2 separate regions of the Homo sapiens genome follow, and region 2 is linked to region 1. A link means that fine-mapping ties the variant in region 1 to the expression of a gene that starts in the linked region. Tissue or cell type: whole blood. Region 1 holds a variant in brackets; the other region holds the start of a gene. All regions are shown on one strand. Distances are between the middles of the regions.

Region 1 (8,183 bases):
TCCTAAGAAGGGCATGAAATCCAGGGCCGTTAATGACTGCCCTTTGGGTATCACTTTCAAGCTACTTGTATTTTAACAAGCCTATAGTTTCCCAGTTTGAGATTGAGAAGATAATGTAAGACAGAATAAAATAACTCATTGAAAGTGAGAGAGACCCTTGTGGTAATTGAATCAATCTCTCTCTACATACACATGCACACATACCTGACTGTATATATTCACCTTGTGACATTTACTCTACTGTGTGCTTGGCACTCTGCTGTCATTTCCTCTTATCTGTGCACTCTGTTACTCATGAAAATAAGTGGATCTCACATTATTTGTTTGGTAGAAAAATACAGTGATTGCTTCATGGTATTTAATACTCTTGCAAGCAGCCAGATCATTCAGTATAGCATTTTTCTGGGTGGTAATGTTAAACTGATGAGTTGCTAACTTCCAGGGATATTGTTTTTTAAAGATAGAGACGTTGTCTATTCCTAAATTTCAGGAAATAGTCACCATGAATCTGTTAACTGCCTGTGTATGTCCAGTAGTTAGTATTATCCTTGACAATCTCATGGCATTGGGGCAAAAATAATAAATAAGGTATATGCTTTCACTCAGGCTGGGAAAAAGTGCATGTTGACAGTTAAAATATGACAGATGAGCAAGTGTTGAATTATAAGACAAGGGAACATTAACCTGGGATGGAGTTTCAGAGAATGGAGGAATTAAAATAGGCTAAAGTTGTTGGAAATGACTTCATACAGGAAGTTGATTTTTAAAAAAGTAGGCCAGGTGCAGTGGTTCACACTTGTAATCCCAGTATTTTGGGAGGCTGGGGCGAGAGGAGTGTATGAGCCCAGGAGTTCCAGACCAGACAAGCCTAAGGAACATAGCAAGACCCCATCTCCACACACACACAAATTTTTAATGAGCTGGCAAACACCCTGGGAGGTGGTCCCAGCTGCTTAGGAGGCTGAGACAGAAGGATTGCTTGAGCCCAGAAGGTCAGGGCTGCTGTGAGCTGTGATCGTGCCTCTGCACTCCAACCTACGTGACAGAGCAAGACCCTGTCTTAAAAAAAAAAAAAAAAAAAAGTTCTTTTTAAAATAAACAAAGGATAAGATTTTGATATAGGCAGTTCTACATGGAGCACAGCATACACAAAAGCAAAGCTGTTTTTGATACTATAGAATTTGTATTAACTTGTCAGAACACCGTGATTTAGTTCTTCCTTGTCTTATTCCTAGGAATGGTCCATAGTTAACGCAGGCTATGTGTAAATATCCCTGTAGTCCTTCTAATCATATAATCTGAAGTTCGCACTCAGGAAAGTACCTGTAAAGACCAGTCTATGAACCAGTGAGCATGGGTAGATACATTATACTTTACCCAGTAAAACATGTAAGATTGCCAGTGATCAGATTTTTAAACCTGCTAATATTTTACAAAATTTATATATCACACCATTTTAAAAGAACCACTCTCTTCCATTTTGGAATAATCCTTGCTTTCAGGTGTGCTGTGTGCGCATCCTCATGTCTGCATTTATACTTTCTTTCCTAGTCTTCACCACACCCAAGAACTGCTCTATGAGAGCACCAAAGATTTTCTGCAACTCAGATCTGAAAACCAAAATAAAGAGAAGTCATGGATGCTTGAAAAAGATAATTTGATGTCAAAGATTAAGCAATATAGGGTGCAGTGTAAGAAGAAAGAAGATAAAATTGGAAAAGTGTTGCCCGTTATGCATGAGAGTCACCATGCTCAAAGTGAATATATTAAGGTAATGTCCTTATGTCGTAACGAAGTTGTTTATTTTTCTGGGAGAGTTGAAGGAATTCCAAAGAACCTACAATTTGTAATGTAAGATCCATTCAGTCCAGGAAGCTCTGGTAGCAGCTGCCTCAAGAACTAGGTTTCAAAGAGCAGCTGATCGTTGTAGTATTTGGGGATTCAAAATATTAGACTTGTTGATTCATTCATTCATTCATTCAACAAATATTTATTGTACTCCTGGCCGGGCACAGTGGTTCACGCCTGTAATCCCAGCACTTTGGGAGGCCTAGGTGGGCAAATCGTGAGGTCAGGAGTTCAAGACCAGCCTGGCCAACATGGTGAAACCCCGTCTCTACTAAAAATACAAAAAAAAAAAAAAAATTAGCTGAGCATGATGGTGGGTGCCTGTAATCCCAGCTACTTGGGAGGCTGAGGCAGGAGAATTGCTTGAACCCGGGAGGCAGAAGTTGCAGTCAGCCGAGACTGTGCCACTGCACTCCAGCCCCGATGACAGTGCGAGACTGTGTCTCAAAACAAACACAAAAAAACATAAATATTTATTGCACTCGTACTATGGGTTAGGCCCTAGAGTTACAGTAATCTAAACAAGGTCTTCCCTCATGGTGTTTACATTTTAATGGGTGAGAAAAAACAGAAACATTAGCAAATAACTAAGAAAATTATAGATTAGGCCAGACGCGATGGCTCACACCTGTAATCCCAGCACTTTGGGAGGCCAAGGCGGGTGGATCACCTGAGGTCAGGAGTTCGAGACCAGCCTGACCAACATGGTGAAACCCCGTCTCTACTGAAAATATAAAAATTGGTGGGGCGTGGTGGTGGGCACCTGTAATCCCAGTTACTCGGGAGGCTGAGGCAGGAGAATCACCTGAACCCGGGAGGCAGAGGTTGCAGTGAGCTGAGATCATGCGATTGTACTCCAGCCTGGGCGACAGAGTGGGACTCCATCTCAAAAAAAAAAAAGGACTTTGGGAGGCAGAGGTGGGTGGATCACGAGGTCAGGAGTTCGAGAGCAGCCTTGCCAGCACAGCGGAACCCTGTCTCTACCAAAAATATAAAAAAATAGCCAGGCGTGGTGGCGGACACCTGTAATCCCAGCTACTTGAGAGGCTGAGGCAGGAGAATTGCTTGAACCTGGGAGGCAGAGGTTGCAGTGAGCCGAGATCGCGCCACTGCACTCCAGCCCAGTGACAGAGCAAGGACTCCGTCTCAGAAAAAAAAAAAGAAAAAATTATAGATTATAAAATGCGGTATTAAGGGAATAAAAGAATTACATGAAAATTATATGTAGTTGCTGGAAGTCCATTGTATTAATAGAAGGAATGCACAGGGACACTCTCTTATATCTAGTGTTTCTGCTGAGACCTGAAAAATGGGACTAAGCTTGCCATACAGACCTTGAGGAAGAACATTCCTGGCAGAGGGAAGAGCAAGTTTATAGGCCCTGGAGTATGTTCAAGGAAATGGAAGGCTGTCATCATGGTTGTAGAGGAATAAATAAGGAGGAAGTGGTATGCTCTTTAAGAAGCCAGCATTGGCAGCAGCCAGTTGTGGAGGGCCTTGTGCATCATCGTATGGAGTGTGAACTTAGCTCTCAATAGTGTTATGTATTTGAAGGGTTGTGTGAAATAAGTAACATGATCTGATTTGGGTTTTTAAAAGATCATTTTAACTGCTCAATAGGGCATGTATAATAAGCGTTGTTGTTAATATTTCTTCCTTTTTAAAGAAGAACTTTAGAAATGTAGCCCAAAACATATATTGTAATGTCTTCCTTGGGACAGCTTCTGAGCTCCGTTATCTGAGTCTTCCCAGAGCCAAAAATATTTGTTTTAATTTTTACTGTGTACACTTTAGAAAAAGGGCTTAAGAGACTGGTCTAGAAGTAGATTTTCAGATGTTCCTCAAAGTTCCTTGTCATCTGGTTCCTTAACTCATTTTGTACCTCTGGAAATCCCTTCTTTTCTTTCTTTCTTTGCCTAAAAGCTACTTGAATTACCTGAATTGTAGAACTGAGTGTTAATGTTTTTTGTCCCTTTGACTTGTAGTCCCTAAAAG[A/G]TAAGTTAGTACAAGAGAAAAAGCTGTCCAATATGTACCAAGAGCAGTGCATTTCCTTAGAAGAAGAACTTGCCCGAATTCGTGAGGAAGAGGGAATGAGGAGAGAGATCTTCAAGGTACGAAATTATCTGCCACTTGTAATGGAATAGGAAGTGCAGATGGCTGGGGAAGACGCTTCCCTCACCTTCGTAAATGCCTTCCCATTCCCCATATTTAGGATCGCACTAACAAGATGGGGAAGCGTTTACAGATAATGACAAAACGCTATGAGGCATTGGAGCGTCGACGTATCCTGGAAGTAGAAGGCTTTAAGACAGATATTAAAGTTCTCCGACAGAAACTGAAAGACTTGGAGCAAATGTTGTATAAGGTAATTGCTGGTCCTGAATTGCCACGAGGGAGAGAAGAGGTGTAAGTGAGGGAACATGGTCACGAGGGCCCCTGAAAAGAAGGATGTGCTGTTTCCCTGCTGGTAAACACTAACAGATCACCATCTTCAAGCCTCCCTGAAAATTAGTTCAAGAACATGCTAGAGGGAAAATAAAAAGACCCTGAAATCATTGAACGACTGCATCATTCATACTTCGATGTAAGCTAAACAGATTGTCATCCCTCCTAATTCAAGAAGTAGATTAAAGAATCGTGTCTGTCTTACAGTTGGGGAGGGTGAGTAATTGAGTGATAGAGTACTTTTTTCCAGCAGACACAGTTCTTTAGAATACAAGTCGCCTCAAGAGTCTTCTTAATGAGATTTAGCCAGTTAGCCTGTGTTCCAGACAAGGTTAGTTGCAGAAAAGAGGAGACGCCTGCTTTCATTCTGTGACAAACTTACCAGTAGTGTTGCGCTTTCATTCTGTGACAAACTTACCAGTAGTGTCGCTTATCCTGGCCTCTCTTACTCCTCTTTCATGGTGCATTGATCTCTACCTCAAGCCTCCTTTATTGCATGGGAAGGATTTTCATGAGATTTCTGCCTTAATTCTACATTTTCCTTCTTTAGTTAGCCACTGAACAAAGGATGGAATTTATCCTATGTACTCAAAATCTCACAAAAAGGAGCTAGCATAGCTGTGTCTTTTTGACTGATATCGCTCCCCTGGCATATGCCATCATCATTTCTTTTTTTTTTTTTTTTTCAAACCCCTAGGCAACAGTTAATGCCCGGGCAAACCAGGATCTTGCCCTTCTGTGTGAGGTCCGTGACAGCAATAGACGGGCACATAAGATACAAGGAGAACTGAAGAATCTTAAGTCGAAAGTGTTTGGTCTGGAGAATGAACTTAGACTCTGTTAATGTCTACTTTTGGAAATGGCCCCCATTTAGAAGAGGTGTGCTTCTTGAAACCTGAGGACAAGGTCATCTGCTGCCAGAAAATGTAAACCTGAGTTGACTAGAGTGGTGGTATTCATTATTGTAAAGACAGCTTGAAGAATCGGGGACCACTAGGAAAGCTTTTCTTGCATACTCAGCTTGCTTTATCATTTTTGCTGTCCTTTTAACACTTGCGAGGAGTAGGGGCCTGGTCCTGAATGACTTGGAGGCTTTCATTATTTATCCTGTCTGTATTGACCGGTTTTTGTTTTTTCAGAAGGCAGTGATGATGAAAACTTAGGAAGAAGGTATTTTGCAATAAGCTTGGCTGAGTGTCCATGGGAAGAATACTTTCCCTAAAGAGAGAGAAGCACTCACAGAGGCTGCCTTTCTCCTGAGCTCGGGGAGAAGGCAGCACATCACAACCTGTCACATTGAAATAGGCGCTCATTCTGCTATTTCACCTTCCGTCCTGAGCAGAGCCTGAATTACGTTTTTGGGCAATTTCATGGTGTTTCACCAGAGGGCGCTAGAGACTCAAACGAAATGTCCATCTGGAAAGATTCGGGAGACACTTTGCCGAGGGGATGAAGCTGAGATGATGCTTGTATGGAAAGTTTGATATTTTTATCAGTCACATGGCTTTTGAAAAATGATGTATATATTTTAAATTAACTATTTTCAATAAAATATTTCACTCAAAAGATTTTCTTTGAGTTTTCTGTAACTTCTTCTCAATACTATATTTATGCTTCGTTAATGACTCACGCAGCTCAGTTTACGTTCTTGTCCCATGGCCTCTGCAGTTTTGTGCAAGTGTACAAGGTTTTTTGGGGGGTTTTTGAGACAGTTTCACTCTCGTCACCCAGGCTGGAGTGCAGTGGCGTGATCTCGGTCCACTGCAGCCTCCGCCTCCCGGGTTGAAGTGATTCTCCTGCCTCAGCCTCCCAAGTAGCTGTAATTACAGGCGCTCACCACCATGCTCGGCTAATTTTTGTATTTATTTTATTTTATTTTATTTTAGTAGAGTCAGGGTTTCACCATGTTGGCCAGGCTGGTCTTGAACTCCTGACCTCAGGTGATCCACCCGCCTCGGCCTCCCAGAGTGCTGGGATAACAGGTGTGAGCCACCACACCCAGCCCACAAGTTTTTTTAAATTACTCCTTTGAAATCATCTAGTGTTGGAGATAACAAAGCTAGTACGAAGGGGATGACACTAAAACTTCATCCGTTTTTAGGCAAATTGCATTTGGGACAAAATAGTTGTTTCCATACCCAGAAAGCCTCTTGATAGTAAGTTGGTCTTTGCTTAAGATAGCATCATTCTGATTTACCCAGGACAAAGGAGAGAACCCAGGTTTTCATATTTAAAATGGTTAACAATGTGTAAAGGAAGGTGGTGATTGTACTGCACGCAGAAGCTGTTACCTTTCTTGAGAAAGTCTGTGATCAGCCAGGTATGGTGGCTCATGCCTGTAATCCCAGCACTTTGGTAGGCCGAGGTGGGTGGATCACGAGGTCACGAGATTGAGACCAGCTTGACCAACATGGTGAAACCCCATCTCTACTAGAAATAGAAAAATTAGCTGGGCGTGGTGGCACGCACCTGTAATCCCAGCTACTCGGGAGGCTGAGGCAGGAGAATTGCTTGAACCTGGGAAGCAGAGGTTGCAGTGAGCCGAGATCACGCCACTGCACTCCAGCCTGGTGATGGAGTGAGACTCCGTCTCAAAAAAAAAGAAAAAGCCTGTGATAGCAGATCAGTTTTTTTCATTGATCAGTTGGGACAAAAATTCTTAAGAGTGCCCTGCTCCCAGGCCTCAGAGAGATTTACAGAAGTGCATGATTCTTCCTTCTGTCCTAATACTTAGGGAATTGGCTTTTCCTGACTATTACTTTTGTTGTTGCTGGCAAAACAAAAAGGCTTATTAAATCAGAGAATTTTGGAGTAAGAAGCAACCTTAAATATCATATAATCCAACTTACTTACAAATGACTCTGAGACCTACTACCATTGACTTCAGCAATCAGTTGATAATGTTTCTAACATCCTGGTCTCAATTCCAATAACATTCATCTTTATATTAACCACCCACTGGTGTGGCCACTCTTCAAACCTCACAATTGGTTAAAACTCTGTCACCAAGAAGCAGCATAAAATAGTGGAAAGGGTACAGGCTTTGGAGAATCACAGATCTGGATTCAATCACACCTCTTACTAAAATTCTCCAGGCTCTAGTCTCTTCGCTTGTAAAAGAGACAAAAAGCTACCTGTTTCAGCAGAGTGACTGTGAGGATTAAGAAAGAGAAAATCTAGTATCCAGAGTATATAAAGAGCTCTTACAACTAAATTAAAAAAACACACACCCAATTCAAAAATGGGCCAGGGATCTGCATAGACATCTCTCCAAAAAAGTCGCACAAATGGCCAATAAGTACGTGGAAAGATGCTCAGCATCATTAAGGAAATGGAAACTAATGCGATACCGCTTCACGCTCACTAGGATGGCTGTCGTCAAAAAGTCAGCAACAACTGGATAAGGATGTGGAGAAACTAGAGGCCTCATAGATTGCTGACGAGAATGTCAAACGGTGCTTCCCCTTCAAAAAACAGTCTGGCAGTTCCTCGAAAAGTTTAGAGTTACCATATCACCCAGCAATTCCACTCCATAAGTATATACCCAAGATAAATAAAAATATACACCCCCACAAAATCTTCTGCATAGATGTTCATAGCAGTATTATTAATAATAGACCAAAAGTGGAAACCATCCAAATGTCCGTGAGCTGGTGAATGGATAGACAGGATACGGTATATCCATATGATGGAACATTAGCAGCCATGGAAAGGAATGATGTAGTGATACATGCTACTACAAGGGGGAACCTTGCAACGTTTTGCTAAGAAGGCAGAAACAGAAGGCCACATATTGTACGATTCCCATACACATGAAACGTCCAGAATAGGCAAATCCATATGGAAAGCAGATGACTGGTTGCCAAGGGCTGAGAAGGGGGGAATAAGGA
Region 2 (8,183 bases), 39 kb before region 1:
AAATTGCAGGGGCTAAAAGAAAGGAAATAGACAAAAGATACCGAGCCGAGATGTTTGGGAAGATATTAATGTAATTAACAGAGAAAATCACAAGGGAGAAAAAAGCAGGTTTGGGAGTACAGGCATAACTTGGAGATATTGCAGGTTCAGTTCCAGACCACCATAATAAAGTGAATATCACCATAAAGCAAATTGCTCGAAATTTTCGGTTTCCTGGTACATAAAAAAAGCTATGTGTTTACACGATACTGTAGTCTAGTGCATTATTTCTAGTTTGCATTATTTCTTTAAAAAAATTTACATGCCTTAATTTAAAATGCTTTTTTTTTTTGAGACAGAGTCTTGCTCTGTCACCCAGGCTGGAGTGCAGTGGCGCGATCTCAGCTCACTGCAGCCTCTGCCTCCTGGGTTCAAGTGATTCTCCTGCCTCAGCCTCCCGAGCAGCTGGGACTACAGGCGCCCGCCACCACGCCCGGCTAATTTTTTGTATTTTTAGTAGAGATGGGGTTTCACTGTCTTAGCCAGGATGGTCTCCATCTCCTGACCTCGTGATCCGCCCGTCTCAGCCTCCTGCAGTGCTGGGATTACAGGCGTGAGCCACCGCGACTGGCCTTAAAATACTTTATTCTAAAAATGCTAATGATCGTCTAAGCCAAGTCATAATATTTTCACTGATGGAGGGTCTAGCCTTGATGTTGGGGGCTGCTGACTGATCATGGTGCTGATTGCTAAAGGCTGGGGTGGCTGTGGCAATTTCTTAAAATAAGACAACAATGAAGTTGTTTTCATTCTTCCTTTCATGATATTGATTGATTCTTCCTTTCATGAAAGATTTCTCTGTAGCATGCAATGCTGTTTGATAGCATTTTACCCATAGTAGAACTTCTTTCAAAGTTGAAGTCAATCCTCAAACCCTGCAACTGCTTTATCGACTAAGTTTATGGAATATTCTAAACCCTTTGTTGTCATTTTGGCAATGTTCACAGCATCTTCACCAGGAGTAGATTCCAGCTAAAGAAACCACTTTCTTTACTTATTCATAAGAAGCAACTCTTCATCCATAGTTTCATCATGAGATTGCAGCAATTCAGTCACATCTTCAGGTTCCACTTTTTTTTTTTTTTGAGACAGAATCTTGCTCTGTTGCCCAGGCTGGACTGCAGTGGCGCGATCTGGGCTCACTGCAACCTCTGCCTCCCGGGTTCAAGCGATTCTCCTGCCTCAGCCTCCCAAGGCTCCACTTCTAATTCTAGTTCTCTTGCTACTTCCACAGCATCTGCAGTTATTTCGTCCATGAAGTCTTGAACCCCCTCAAAGACATCCAAGAGGATTGGAATTAACTTCTTCCAAACTCCTGTTATTATTGATATTGACCTCCTCCCATAAGTCACAAATGTTCTTTTTAAAATTTTTTTATTAAATATATTTTTACTTTTTTTTTTTTGAGACACAGTCTTGCTCTGTCACTCAGGCTGGACTGCAGTGGCACAATCTCGGCTCACTGCAACCTTGGTCTCCCAGGCTCAAGCAATCCTCCCACCTCAGCCTCCCAAGTAGCCAGGTGCATGCCACCACTCCTGGCTAGTTTTTGTATTTTTTTATAGAGACAAGGTTTTCTATGTTGCCCAGGCTTGTCATGCACTCCTGAGCTTAAGTGATCCACCCACGTTGGCCTTCCAAAGTGCTGGGTTTACAGGTGTGAGACATCTCACCAAGCCAAGTCACAAATGATCTTAAGGACATCTAGAATGGTGGTGAGTCCTTTCCAGAAGGTTTTCGATTTACTTTGCCCAGATCCACCAGAGAAATCACTATGTCTGGCAGCTATAGCCTTATGAAATATTTTTTTTTTTTTGAGGCGGAGTTTCACTCTTGTTGCCCAAGCTGGAGTGCAATGGCACGATCTCAGTTCACTGAAACCTCCGCCTCCCAGGTTCAAGTGATTCTCCTGCCTCAGCCTCCTGAGTAGCTGGGATTACAGGCATGCGCCATCATGGCCAGCTAATTTTGTATTTCTAGTAGAAACGGGGGTTTCTCCATGTTGGCCAGGCTGGTCTCGATCTCCTGACCTGGTGATCCGCCCACCTCAGCCTCCCAAAGTGCTGGGATTACAGATGTGAGCCACCGTGCCCGGCCTGAAATATATTTCTTAATAAGACCTGAAAGTCAAAATGACTCCTTGATCCATGAGCTGCAGAATGTCTGTTGTGTTTGCAAGCATGAAAGCAACATTCATCTGTTTGCATACCTCCACCAGAGCTCTTGGGTGACCAGTTGCATTGTGAGTGAGAAGTAATATTTTGAAAGAAATCCTTTTTTTCCTGAGCAGTAGGACTTAAAATAAAACATACATAAAACGGTGAACTTAAAATACTCAGTTAACCATGCTATAAACATATATGCTGTCATCCAGGTTTTGTTGTTCCATTTATAGAGCACAGGCAGACTATATCTAACATAATTCTTAAGGGCTCTAGGATTTCAGGGATGTAAATGGGCACTGGCTTCAACTTAAAGTCACCAGTTGCATTAGCCCCTAACATGAGAGTCAGTCTGTTCTTAGAAGCTGTGAAGCCAGGTATTGACTTCTCTCTAGCTACAAAAGTACTACTTGGCATCTCCTTCCAATAAAAGGCTGGTTCATATATATCAAAAGTCTGTAGTTTAGTTTAGCCACCTTAATCAATTACCTTAGTTAGCTCTTCTGAATAACTTGCTGCGGCATCTACATCAGCACTTGCTGCTTCCACCTTGCACTTTTAAGTAACGGAAATAGCTCCTTTCCTTAAACCTCACGAACCAGCCTCCGCTATCTTCCACCTTTTCTTCTGCAGCTTCCTCACCTGTCTCAGCCTTCATTTTATTGAAGAGTTAGGACTTTGCTCCAGATTAGGCTTTGGCTTCAGGGAATGCTGTGGCTGGTTTGATCTTCTATCCAGACCACTCAAACTTTCTCTATATCAGCAATGTCTGTTTCACTTTCTTATCATTTTTGTGTTTACTGGAGTAGCACTTTTAATTTCCTTCAAAAACTTTTCCTTTGCATGCACAACTTGGCTAACTTTGGTGCAAGAAGACTGGCTTTCATCCTGTCTTGGCTTTCAACATGCCTTTTTCACTGAGCTTAATCATTTTCAGCTTTTTATTTAAAGTAAGAGATGTGTGACTCTTCCTTTCACTTGAACCCCCACTGTAGGATTGTTAATTGGTCTAATTTCAATATTGTTGTATCACAGGAATAAGGAGGCAAGAAGAGAGGGAGAAAGGCAGGGAGACTGCTGGTCTGTGGAGCAGTTAAAACATCCACAACATTTATGAATTAAGTTTGCCATCTTATATGGGCATGGTTCATGGTGCCCCTAAACAATTATAATAGTAATATAAAGGATAACAGATCAGCATAACATATACAATAATTATGAAAAAGTTTGAAATATTGTGAAAATTACCAAATGTGGTGCAGAGACACATAGTAAGCCTGTGCTGTAGGAAAAATGGCGCAGATAGATTTGGTTCCATGCAGAGTTGCCACAAACCTTACATTTGTAAAAACAGTTACCTGGGAAGCGCAATAAAGGAAAGTGCGAGCCTGTAGCAGATGCACGTTCCATTTAGACATCCTTAGGACTCACACCAGCGAAGGGCCCCAGCTTTTCCATACCAGTAGCTGTAATTCTGAGACGAAAGTGCTTTTCCCCCACCTTTACACCTTGCTTTCTGGAAAGATAAGACCATAATGGATTTTGAACTTGCTTTTATCATTAAAGCCCAGTGTCTTACATTTCTCCGGAAAAGGAAGCAGTGTTTGCTATGGAACAAATAGTAGAATTTTAATACATAGTCCCCTGACCGTAGAAACTGAACCTCAGGTCCTATCCTGGCTCTAGGCCACCCGGTCATGGAAGAAGAAACTTTTCTTAGAATCTTTATCTCTTGAGACAAGCTTGGAAATTACAACATATATGTACCATGAACGCGAAGTACCTGAGCTCAAAGCAGTTGAGCAATCTTAAGTGGGGGTGCCCGAAAGTGGTGCGTTCTGACCCCAAACGTCACACTACCCGTCCCTGGAGGAGCGGGTTGCAGCCCAGCTGCGTCGCCCCGCGCAGAGCTCCAGGCAGAAGAAAACTACATTTCCCAGAGACCTCTGCGCGGTCGGGAGCACCGCGAGGAGGGGCGAGATGGGGGCGGGCCTCTGTGTGAAGGCCCTTCCCATTGGTGCGCATTCCAAAGGGCCATGTAAACTTCTTCGCGATTGCACGGATTCAGGGACGCTCAGTGGCGCCGCGCCGCTCCTTGGTTTGACTTTTGTTTTTCAGTTGCGTTCCCTGACTCGGAGTCTTAGTGTGTCGTGAGTATAGAGTTTCGGGTTTGGGGTGAAGGGGTTAGGTAAGAAGCCTTGGGAAGAAAATCTGGTTAGGGAGAAGTAACTGCGGAAGCAGTGCGGAGGAGAGGACGTGAGCCTGAATGTGGTGTCCGTGGAGGGGCTGGGGACCGGAGGAGGAAAGCTCCAATGTGCAAAGGGAGAGACCTCAGGAGTGCTGGAGCGTTGGGACCTGGAGCAGTGAGGCGGTCGAGAATGGGATGAAGTGGGAAAAGGAGTACGGGATTCGGGCGCCCTGGAGATGCGTTCCGGTGTACTCTAACCCCACGCTGGTCTAGCTCTCAGTTTCCTCATTTGTGAAATAAGGGATAGTGAAAATACTGAACGGTTGTTGGGATAATAAATTGTACAGATTTGTCACGTGGCTAAAAGAAAAAAATTCAAAGTGCTACACAAATGTTAATTGTTAGTAGACAAGCTATAAGAATATATCTAAGCAAGGGTATTGGAGATAGGTGCAGAGACCCTAGCTGAAACCCGTTAATTTACCTATAAACAAAGGCATTGTTCCTTTGGAAGAGGCAATGAAGAGTAAGACGCGATTTCTGTCTGTAGGGAGCGCACGCTAGCATGGGAGAAACGATAGCAATAAAGCACTCTAATATGTTGACTTGTAGATAATTTCAAAGGCAGTTCTTTTGCACTTAGATCATTTTTGCTAAATCATTTTGGATGGGGAGACTCAGGAAAGAGAAAAAGGAGGTGGTATTTAAGATGAGTTTTCATGTACAGACTAGATTTTGTTAAGTGAAATTATGAGGGTTGTGGAGGGAGTTGTGTTCCAGCTAGAGGGAAGCTCATGAACAAAGGTATGGAGGCAGGAAAGTTATCTGGAAACGGTACATTTAGGAGAGTAGAGAGAAATAAGGCAGGAAAGTTAGGTTTGGCCCTTATGTAGAAAGCCATGAATTCTAGGCTAACAAATTGGATTTAATGCTTTAGGCTATGAGGTGCTACTGATGTATTTTATTAAAGAAAATGGTCCAGGAGACGCAAGGAGTAGGTAGAACCGTTAAGGTGTTGTAATGGTGTGGGTAAGAAGTATTGAGACTCTGAATTAACATGGTCATTGTGGAGATAAAATATACAAGATATTCATATGGTTAGACAGGAGGTTCAGAAGAATGAGTGATCAAATGATGAATTTAAGTTGCCAACTCCCGGTTGCTTGGAAACGCTGAATTAGTAACTAAAATAGGAAAGTCAGAAGGGGCATGTTTGGATAAAAAGATGATGTGTTAGGTTTAGGAAATGTTAGCTTTGAGATGCTAAAAAAATACCTAACTTGAGTGATTTCTTTTTTAAGTTAAACGTTTCAAGTGCCAGTGGGACTATGGGTGAAAATGTCCACTACATTTTTGTTAATTCAAATCAAGAGGTTGAAAGAGATGTCGTTTATTTATTCAACATGTAATTGTTACTTACTGTATGCCATGTAGTGTTTTAGATGACAGAGTTAATAATAAAAACAGGAGGAATAATGATGTTCCCAAAGAAATGGTTAGAGGAAATGATAAAGAAACTTGAAGACAGAACCTCTGAGCCAAGGGAGTAAAATTGTCAATAATAATAATAGTCCACATTTACTGAGTGCTTATATATGTGTCAAACACTGTCCCTCGGCCTTATATCCGTACACCAACCTATGACATAGAAGTAACTGAAATTTAGAGAGGATAACTTGCCTGAGGTACACAGCTAATAAGAGGCAGGGCTTTGACTCAAACCCAAGTCTGATATCAGAGCCCACATTCTCAACTACAAAGCAATATTTATTTTTATTATTATTTTTTCCAGGTAAGGTCTCACTCTGTCACCTAGGCTGGAGAGCAGTGGGGCAATCTCAGCTCAGTGCAGCCTCTGCCTCCCAAGCTCAAGCAATCCTCTGCCTCAGCCTCCTGAATAGCTGGGACTACAGGCACGTGCCACCACTCCCAGCTAATTCTGTAATTTTTGTAGAGACAGGGTTTCACCATGTTGCCCAGGCTGGTCTCAAACTCCTGACCTCCAGCAGTCCATTCACCTTGGCCTCCCAAAGTGCTGGCATTACAGGCATGAGCCACTGTGCCCAGCCTATTTTAATTGTTTTTTGAGACAGGGTCTTGCGCTGTTGTCCAGGCTAGAGTGCAGTGGCACGATCACTGCTCGCTGCAGCCTTGAACCCTCAGGCTGAAGTGATCCTCGCACCAAGCAGGTGGGACTACATTGCCACTGTGCCCAGCTAATTTTTAAAATTTTGGTAAAGACAGGGTCTTGCCATGGCCTGGCCATGCCAAGGTCCGGTCCCAAAGTGATATATTTTTAAAGGGTAGTTGGCACTACCAGGCACAGTGGCTCACGCCTGTAATCCCAACACTGGCAGGCAGAGGTGGGTGGATCATCTGAGGTCAGGAGTTCGAGACCAGCCTGGCCAACATGGCGAAACCCTGTCTTTACTAAAAATACAAAAAAAATTAGCCACAGTGGCAGGTGCCTGTAATCCCAGCCACTGGGGAGGCTGAGGCAGGAGAATCACTTGAACCCAGGAGGTGGAGGTTGCAGTGAGCCAAGATCGTGCCACTGCACTCCAGCCTGGGCTGAACAGAGTGAGACTCTGTCTCAAAAAATAAATAAATAAATAGGTAGTTGGCACTATCTAATTAAGAATACAAGTGAAGGAGTAACTATTGGATGGAGGAGGATAGAAACAGAAAAGAGCAATTGAATTTATTAATTTGGATGTCTGCTGACCAATAAGAGCTTGGTTAGATGTCATAGTAGAAGCCCGAGGCCTGGCTCAGTGGCTCATGCCTGTAATCTCAGCACTTTGGAAGGCCAAGGGAGGAGGATTGTTTGAGTCCGGGAGTTCAAGGCCAGCCTGGGCAACATAGCAAGGCCCCGTCTTGCAGCCAGAGAGGTGAGTGTAGACAACTTTTCGTAGACATGTGCAACAGTGAGGACAGTCACTATGAAGGAGAAGAGGGATTGCAGGTTGTTAGAAGGGTCTTTCAAAGCTTCAAATTACTTTTTTTTTTTTTTTTTTGAGACGGAGTTTCGCTCTTGTTGCCCAGGCTGGAGTGTAATGGCGCGATCTTGGCTCACCACAACCTCCGCCTCCCAGGTTCAAGCAATTCTCCTGCCTCAGTCTCCTGAGTAGGTGGGATTATAGGGATGCACCACCATGCCCAGCTAACTTTGTATTTTTAGTAGAGATGGGGTTTCTCCAGGTTGGTCAGGCTGGTCTTGAATTCCTGACCTCAGGTGATCCGCCTTCCTCGGCCTCCCAAAGTGCTGGGATTACAGGCAGGAGCCACTGTGCCCAGCCGCTTCAAATTACTCTTAAATGGCTTTGAAACAGTGAAATTTAACTTTAAGTTGTCACCCATATCCGTACAATGGAATTTTATTCAGCCACAAAAAGGAATGAAGTACTGATACATGGTACCACATAGGTGAACCTTGAAAACATTATGCTAAGTGAAACAAGACAGTCACAAAAGACCATATACTATGTGATTCCATTTATAGGAAAGTCCAGAATAGGGAAATCTGTAGAGACAGTAGGTTAGTGGTTGCTTAGGACTGGGAGACAGGGATAATAGCTGAAGGACACAGGGTTTTTTTCTTGAAGTGACGAAACTTCTAGAATGGACTGTGCTGATAGGTACACGTATCTGTGAATATACTAAAAATCATTGAATTTACACTTTGAATGAGTTTAATGGTGTACACAAATTACATTCCATAAAGCTGCTTTTTTAAAAAAATGTTACCCATAATCCTTCCATGCCAATCCAATAACTTTATTTTCTAGGTTATT

What was found. PIP is the estimated chance that this variant, and not a neighbour inherited with it, causes the effect.
Region 2: it holds the start of CCDC77, and the variant in region 1 is fine-mapped to the expression of CCDC77 in whole blood (TOPMed, PIP above 0.99).

The regions. Positions count from the first base shown.
Region 1 is chr12:436,784-444,966 of GRCh38, forward strand. It overlaps CCDC77 (coiled-coil domain containing 77), which reads left to right. Exons shown (of 13, transcript NM_032358.4): 10 at 1,552-1,771; 11 at 3,834-3,959; 12 at 4,061-4,213; 13 at 4,991-5,859. The coding sequence ends at 5,137. Among named protein-coding and RNA genes, the nearest start is that of B4GALNT3, 19 kb to the right of the region's middle. The variant A/G (reference allele first, on the strand shown) is at 3,844.
Region 2 is chr12:397,334-405,516 of GRCh38, forward strand. It overlaps CCDC77 (coiled-coil domain containing 77), which reads left to right and starts at 4,311. Exons shown (of 13, transcript NM_032358.4): 1 at 4,311-4,351; 2 at 8,178-8,183. It overlaps LOC105369594 (a long non-coding RNA gene), which reads right to left and starts at 4,077. Exons shown (of 4, transcript XR_007063149.1): 1 at 3,985-4,077; 2 at 3,560-3,717. RefSeq lists enhancers at 3,835-4,154, 4,569-5,121.